Regions from separate parts of the Homo sapiens genome. Here regions 2 and 3 are each linked to region 1. Evidence: fine-mapped expression QTL. A gene starts in region 1. Each other region holds a variant in brackets. All regions are shown on one strand. Distances are from middle to middle.

Region 1 (2,769 bases):
ATAGAGACAGGGTTTCGCCATGCTGGCCAGGCTGGTCTGGAACTCCTGACGTCAAGTGATCCGCTCGCCTTGGTCTCCCCCAAAGTACTGGGATTACAGGCATGAACCTCTGTGCCCGGCCAAAAAAGCAAACTTTATAATAGGAGATTTCAGTTTATGCTTCAATTACTAAATGAACAAGGTGAAAAAATCTGTAATGATATAATAAATTTGAACAACGTAATTAACAACATTTATCTAATAAAATTCTGAAAACAACATTTAAGAATCTCACATTCCATTTAAGCACACATGAAATATTGTACCAGGCTATAGAAAACATCTTTTAAAAATTTGAAAAGTAAACAATAGTAACCTTTTCCTAACTGCCTTCCCCTCCACTCCCCTATACCTTGCCACAAGGAAAAAAAAAATCATTAACTTTCAGGAGGGCAGAGAGTAATTCCAAAATGATTGAAATTCTGCCGCTAGCACCCGGTGCAGAATGGAGCTAAAGTAAAGGATCAATATACTTATGAAAATATTAAGACACCATGTGCTTGAGTAACTGTGTTTGTGAAACTGAAAAAAATTTTCTACTCTGTGTACATTTGTTCTTATGTTTTGTAAAATTGGGATGATGTCATATAATACATCTCTATGCTCAGATATGTTTTTTACTTAATATTCTTTCATGATACTTTTTTCATGTCACTATCTTGAGAACCCACCACAGCTACCGAGTTTCCAACACTTCTTCCAGCCAAAATAACAGAAGCCCTCTTCTAAGTACCAACTTATGCCAGTATACACTCGGATAATTAATTTTAAAATCTGCAACGGTCAAAATGCATTTTCTCTTGTTCAGTCCTCAGTTGTGGTGGAATAGAAGATGCCTGTTATCTTCCTAAGTAAATGAAGGATTCATATCAAGCAACTCAGTTTTCACTTTTCTGAATACTCAGCCCTACTCCCATCATCCCATGACCCTGAATAACCAATACTGATTGTCCCCTTGTGATTCTGGGGACTTCAAGGAAGGAACAAGATCATATTTACAAAATCAGGAACAGTACTCACCTCACTGGAAATTTTTTCAACAGTAGTCCAGATCTTGAGATCTTCAGAAATGCAGGAATCAATGCTTATTTGTGTGAGGGGGGAGATAAATCAGTAAAGTTCCCAGAAACGGAACCGCAGGATGTTGTAATCTCCAGAAACGCTAAGAAAATGAAGTATCTGCAAAGATAACAAGGAAAAAAGGCCTTGGTTGAGTCACTTAGTTAGCTGACTAGTGCTGGCTTGCTCCTATTCTGCTATTGCCCCAGAGAAAATGGAGTAGGAAACAATGTGGAGACTCCTCCCACCAGTGTTTTTAGCTTTCGTTTCTGTTAGTCAGAGAAAATGAACAGTTTCCTGGCAAGGGCTGGAGCATGTGGTGAGGGGAAATGGGGGATGAGAAATTACTTTAATGGGTACAGTTAACATTTTTCGGGTGATGTGCACACTGAAATCTCTGACTTCACCAATATGGCATATATCCATGTAACGAAATTACACTTGTATCTCATAAATGTATATAAACACAAATAAGTTTTTTTTCTTACAAAATTCGATAGCTGAAAGGAGTTCCAACATTAGAACTTTCTTACCCAGCAGACTTACATGTGAGTCATTAGAGACTTATATTCCCTTAAATGATGCTCAAATATAAGAGAAGCAACATGGCTTCTTCTCCCCTCCTTTCCTGTGCACAGAGTGGCAGTGGCAGGAGGAGATCTTGGTAGGAGCATCTATTGCTACCAATACTTTACTGCATCTCCTGGTTGGGGAAATGTCTGCTATGAAATCGCTATTTGTTTAAATACTACCTGAAGTATTCATCCAATTATTAATAACTGACAAGCCTGGGCTTTCCAGATCAGAAAGTCATTATGAATATGTAAATCCTTCCTTAAATTTATATGAAGGAGTTTAACACTAGCTGTCCTCTTGACCATGACTAGGTTACTTTACCTCAATGATTAGATTCACGAATGCTCAGATTTTCTGCATTATTCCTGGATAAACAAACGTGGATAGTGGACTCTCAACATGACAGCATCGAAGACTTGAAAATCCTGGAAAATGCACTGAACTTCCGGTAGTGTGAGGAGTCTGTTTAATCCTCTGCTCAGCAGTGTATTTTTCTCTGTTAAGGACAGTGGGTGCCCTTTAGCGTGCTGTAACCCCAGGATGTCAAATAAATGGCATCAACTAGCAGATGATGTGGTGTTAACCCAGCAGCAGATCTGCAAGCAGGATGTGGTCATGAGTGGAAAAGGGGCCCCATAGACTGTTAATATGTACTGTCCAAGGCCATCTACAGAGCAAAAGAAAGCTGATTGTTTTAATCCAAACTAGGGCCATGAAGTGAATAGCTGAATTCTGGATTTGAAACCATATGAATAACTTTATCAAAAAAGGAGTAAGTCAAGAAAAAGCAAAGAGGATCTGGAATGATGGCCATAAACATCTCTGGGTGTTCGTGATAATCTTTTACTGGCTTTAGGGTACTCTTTACGTGGATACATTGAGTTGGCCTTAAGGCAGTAGGTAGAGAAGGATATTAAGGCAGTCACTGGGAACCCCAATCCAGAGGTCAAAGGGTAGAGAACCCTTGGAAGTTATGACCCTTCAGAACATTTTCTGCCTTTTACTTATAATCATTTTATATGCAGTAATGTCCTCAATTGGGACTCCAGCATACAACACACAAACTGCGGTCACCTATAAGGGCAACTCAGGACA
Region 2 (2,769 bases), 76 kb before region 1:
CAATATAAAGGACATTGAGTAGTGTAGGAGTCAAGGAAAAGCGAAGAAGTAGAGACTGTTGGGTTGGGAGCCTAGGTCAGTGGGAGAGTTGTGGTTCCATTAACAGTAAAAGGGAAGTAAGAATGAGAAAGTACTTAGAGTCCTAAGACAATCAATGATTTAGGATATGTAGAGGTTGAATTTTTCATTATGTATTTAAATAAAAATGTGTAGCACAAAGTTTCAAATGTACACTTGGAGTTTTAAGGTGGTGAGTCTTGGTGATTTGAGTTTGCAATTATTTTATACAGATTCAGTTTCTGCCCCTAAGGAGTTTACACTTCACTGAAAAAGGCAGACAAGACATTAGCCCTCATAAAACAATATATTGATAGTCATAATAATAATGGATAGAGTTTACTGAGTTCTTTCTTTCAGTTACTTTGCTTAGTGTTTTAAACATGTAAACTCTTAATTTTCACAACACCTTCTAGGATTAGGGACTGACAGCCTTCAATAGACTAAGAGACTTACTCAAGGCCACACAGGTTGGTGGAGCAGGGATTTTAACTTGCACGGGTGTAGTGCCCAAGCCTGTGAGTTTACTTCTTTCCACTTTATTGCTGTGATGGAAAGTCCTGGAGATGATGGGAAAATAAACAACAGGAGCACTTAGCTCAGACTTGGGCTTGCAGGATTTGAAAACAATTTTGGAGAAAGTGAGATATAAAGAAGGACCTGGGGGTGAGTAAGAATTAGCCAGATGGGGGAGGAGAAGTAGAGGGCGAGGTATGTGCAGATTCACCTGGAGCCTAGTGTATGTGGGCAGAGGGAGGCCAGGAAGGGCCTGGCCCCAGAGCGCTCTGATGAGCTGGCCAACAGGAAAACAGAGGCAGCCTCATGTCACAAACAAAGCATCCATGTTTATGAGGTGGAAAGAGGAGAGACACTGACAACGAGGACAAAGATAGGTGGTTCAGAAGCTGGAAGAGCTTTAGGATCTGTTCTCTGGCTTTTATTAATATTTTTGCCTCACCCTTGTTGCCTTTTTACCTGCTCCCTGTTTCAGTACATTGATATCAAATATAAGTAGAGCAAACCAAATTAAACATCATAGAATGATGGGTAAAATCTGGTGGAAGCAAATAATTATCTGTTGGATGTTTCCTAGATCTGAAACAGGATTTGCTAGATCTGAGCCCTATCCTTCTTTCCCCTCACACTCCACCACCAGCTTTATTGAGGTATAATCAACAAATAAAAATTGTATATTTACAGTATACAACGTGATGTTTTGATATTTGTGTACATTATGAAATGATAAAGTTAATAAACATGTCTGCCACCTCACATAGTGTGTGTGTGTTAGAACATTTAAGATCTACTCTCTTAGCGATACTCAAGTACACACTAC[G/A]TCACTGAGTGCCATCTTCCTTGAAATACTCTTTGCCTTGCCTTCCAGCACTCCACCAGGTCTGGCTTCTTTTCTCTACTGCTCTGACCTTTCTTTGTAAGTCTTCCTTGTTGACTCTTCCTCTTTAGCCCAACCACTTGCTGTCTGAGCTCTACGTGGCTTGGAGGCCTGCCCCCTTCTCCTTCATGATGGCCTCTCCTGACAGTCTCATCCTGTTCTGCAGCATCAGCTGCCATCTGTATTTGGATGCTGCCCACGTTACTGTCTGGAGTTCTGACCTTTCGTCTAAGCTCCAGGCTTATATATTCAATTAAACATCTCCATTTACATATCTCTTGGGCACCTCAAACGCAACACCTCCACCGCTAAACCCACATTTTCCTCACTTACTTTGACCTACTCCTCCTTGGGTACTCCCTGTCTCTGTAATGACACTATCATTCACCTACTTTCCTGAGCCAGAAATCTGGGAATAATTCTGGAATCCTTATCTCTCTTGAATGAGTTTTTAGTGGCCATGTGTCACATTTGTACCTTCCCAGAACCTTTTAAATAATTCACATGTAATAATTCTCACGTCCCCAACTCAGAAGACAGGAGTCAGATTCTCATTTTTTTTTTCTTGCAGCCCAGATGGACACAGGTGACCTAGGCTTGCCCTGTCAGATGCTTCCAAGGGAGGCTTGATTTAGAAGTCATCAACATGAGAACCTGGCTCTCCATGGAGTTTCCATCTTGCTGATGCGGCTGGCTTCAGACATCTGGGTTTTAGGCAATAGCAGCAATTGCGAAGTACATACGGAAGTGGCATTTGTTCTGTAGATTTAGCAATTGCAGTGTAGTCAGGTCTTGGCATTATATGTTTAGGGAGCAGAAACAGTGAACTTATCCAGAATAGTTTTGTTGCCTGGTTTGGTGTGTGTGTATGTGGGTGGAGGGAGAAGGTGTGGGAAACACATTTTTGTTTTTTCTGTGAGTTTAGTCTTGACCTTGTTCCTTCAGTCCTTCAGACTCTCCAGTGATCTCTGAGGGATGTGTGTGTGTGTCTGTATGTGTGTGTGTGTGTGTGTGTGTGTGTGTGTGTGTGTATTTCAGACAGGGTTTTGCTCTGTCACTCAGGCTGGAGTGCAGTGGTTTGATCACCACTCACTGCAGCCTCAAACTCCTAGACAATCAAGTGATCCTCCTGCCTCAACCTCCCAAGTAATTGGGACTACAGGCATGTGTCACCAAGCCCTGCTAATTTTTAAAATTCTTTGGAGAGATAAGGTCGCCGTTTTTTGCTCAGGCTGGACTTGAACTCCTGGCTTCAAGCGATTCCCCCGCCTTGGCCTCCCAAAGTGCTAGAATTACAGGCATGAGCCACCGTGCCTGGC
Region 3 (2,769 bases), 40 kb before region 1:
TTATCTTCATTGTTTTATGAGAGTGGAAGGAAGAATATTTCTTTTTTAATGAGAATTAACCCATAAAGAAAAGGCATATCCCCTATCAAGAGGTATGGGGAAGCAGAGGGTAAAGGCAAAGCTGCCATGAAGTGACTCCCAAAAGAGATGAGATTTTAGAAGAATCTCAGTTTTACTCCTTTCTACCCAGGTCAGGTCATATTGAGCACTGCTGGTCCGTGGAGGCAGCTGTCCTGCCTCCATGTTCTGGTCTCTAGGACTCCCTTGATCCCTTCTTGCCTCCATACTTCCTCTTCCAGATCAGCAGCCCCTCCAATTCAAAGTGCTCTCCTACAACTCAGAAATAGTGCAGGCCACTGTGGAGAGAGGAGGTTAAAGAAAAGTTCCCTCCTGCCTAATATGACAGTGACCAAATAAAATAAAAATAGAGAAAAAAATCATATTACTAGCATTCAGAGTAAGGAATAGTCTCAACCACAAACCTTAGATTTCATGAGATTTCAGTTGGAACTCATTCTAGTAGATAGGGGCATTTTAAAGAACCAAATTGCAAAGCCCTTTCTAATGAAGCAGCACTATGTTGCAAAAACATCATTAAGGCAGCCACTGGAAGACTCCACAAACTTTCCTAATCTGAAGGGGCCCAGGTTAGAGGCTCTCCAATCTGAATAATGGCAGGAACTAAAAAGAGTCATGGACGTGAAAAATTAGGCGGGAGGGGACTTTTCTTTAACCTCCTGTCTCCACAGTGGCCTGCACTGTTTCTGAGTTGTAGGAGAGCACTTTGACTTGGAGGGGCTGCTGATCTGGAAGAGGAGGTATGGAGGCAAGAAGGGATCAAGGGAGTCTTAGAGACCAGAACATGGAGGCAGGACGGCTGCCTCCACAGACCAGCAATGTGATCTGACCTGGAAGATGATATTGGCCACCTGTGAGTGATGGCTTTAACTCTGATGGACTTAACTCTAATGAACTCATCAATGTGGCCAATTTTCCATAACATTAGGAAACCCATTCCCAATGAAGTTAATCAGTATCAAATCACCTCACAATAGCCATGACATCAGTACCCTGACACAAGGTGCACAGAACCTAAGGAAATAATTATAAAGCTACTCTGAGGGCAATGAAAGAAGATCTGAGAGACATGTGATCTTATTATGTTCGTTGTAAATACACAGAATACTGGAAACAACATAAAGCCAAATAAAAA[AT/T]GATCATTTTTATAATGTATGGAATAACTGTGCAATTTTTCTAGTACAATAAAATAATTTAAATCTATATTGTATGATTGCATGGCAGTTCACGATATATTAATAAAAAACATGGGTTATGGAAAAATATGTGAATGTGATTTACTCTGAGAGAAAATAAGACTCTTTGTATATACATACTGAAAGGTATAAAATCAGAAAGACCATGTACTGAAATGTGGCATTAGATAGAGATTTCTGACAGTTAAAAGTTATTTTTGCTTATGTACCTTCCTTTCCTAAATTTTTAAACATATTGTTTGAGTTATAATAAATGAAAGGGGAAAAATCAGTGATAGTGTTATGGGTGGCTCTGTTTTTTCCCACCTTGTTCTACTTTAAGGTATGATTTTCATGATGTATTGAGGGAAAAACAAAAACGTAAGCCAAAAGAAAAATAAAATTAAACAAACATCTAATTATACCTGTTATGGAATAGAGATGATAAAAACAGAATTTTAATTTTGGATAGGACCTCAAAATACACACTTGATAAATAAATGACTGATTTGGTTAAATTAAAGCATTGTATGTAGTAGGGGATTGGTGAGGTGCTTTCACGGTTGTGTTAATCCTTGTCATTATATAGTAGCGAGGGGAATGTATTGGGAAGAGGGAACTTGTACCGTGGTTAAGAAACTGCTGCTTGGTGTTGATGGAGGCATCTGAGGAGTGTGGGGATGGCTCTCAGCTGGGCCTATGCTGGTCATGAACGGTCCTGGAAAATGACTCCCTTCCTTCAGTATCTGCATCCTCATGAAGTCATTCATTTTGGAGATTGTGTCTTCACTTTTCTAAAGGAAAATAGATGTTTGTTCTTTTTTTCTAGTTAATGTTTTTCAAGATCAGATGAAACACATCTTTTCCTTTTTTCTTTTTTAAATAGGATGTTCACTTTGCCAGTTTCTCTGTTTTTCCCTGAGTTGCAGGAGGAATAATACCACATATTCAGATACTTCTATCACTCAGCCTTCTCTCATCCCAGTCAGGATTAAAAACTCAGATAACTGAAATTGCATTGTCTGGGGATGGAATACTCAGTCTTCACATCCTGTAAAACTGGACTGAGTTATTTGGTCAGGTACAACTCTTAGGGCTATTTTGGGGGCAGCATGGCTTGCAATAAAGTTGGCTACATTTATGGACATTTATTAACTAGGCCTTTCTCATCAATTAGATACACAAACCAGTCTCTCTCAAGTGCTCTTCAGCATACAAGAAACCCAGATCTCCATCCTTTAGGGATCTCTGATCGTAGCCATAACAGGAAGATTCTCTCAAATTCACAATTCCTCAGGGAAGGTTCTATGATCACTACAGTGTGGATCAGGCTATCAGAATCTTTCAGGGTTTTTAGCTGTATTCAGAACAATTTAATATTCCACCTAAAGCATTCCCATTAGCTATATTTTTATACATTTTTCAAGTAAGACTGGAGAATATCTCTAAAATCACATACCTTGACTACCTTTAATTAAACTAATGGAAGTCCAAAAAATATTCACCCTATTTGGCC

Evidence for each region. PIP is the estimated chance that this variant, and not a neighbour inherited with it, causes the effect.
Region 2: its variant is the best candidate, but not a certain one, in a credible set for the expression of IFI16 in whole blood (INTERVAL, PIP 0.88).
Region 3: its variant is the best candidate, but not a certain one, in a credible set for the expression of IFI16 in whole blood (INTERVAL, PIP 0.72).

What each region holds. Positions count from the first base shown.
Region 1 is chr1:159,008,452-159,011,220 of GRCh38, reverse strand. It overlaps IFI16 (interferon gamma inducible protein 16), which reads right to left and starts at 1,314. Exons shown (of 12, transcript NM_001376587.1): 1 at 1,060-1,314. RefSeq lists an enhancer at 1,378-1,457.
Region 2 is chr1:159,084,491-159,087,259 of GRCh38, reverse strand. It overlaps a transcript of AIM2 not described here. Among named protein-coding and RNA genes, the nearest start is that of AIM2, 9.1 kb to the right of the region's middle. The variant G/A (reference allele first, on the strand shown) is at 1,394.
Region 3 is chr1:159,048,710-159,051,478 of GRCh38, reverse strand. IFI16 (interferon gamma inducible protein 16) reads right to left here. Exons shown (of 12, transcript NM_001376587.1): 9 at 1,880-2,047. Among named protein-coding and RNA genes, the nearest start is that of AIM2, 27 kb to the left of the region's middle. The variant AT/T (reference allele first, on the strand shown) is at 1,214.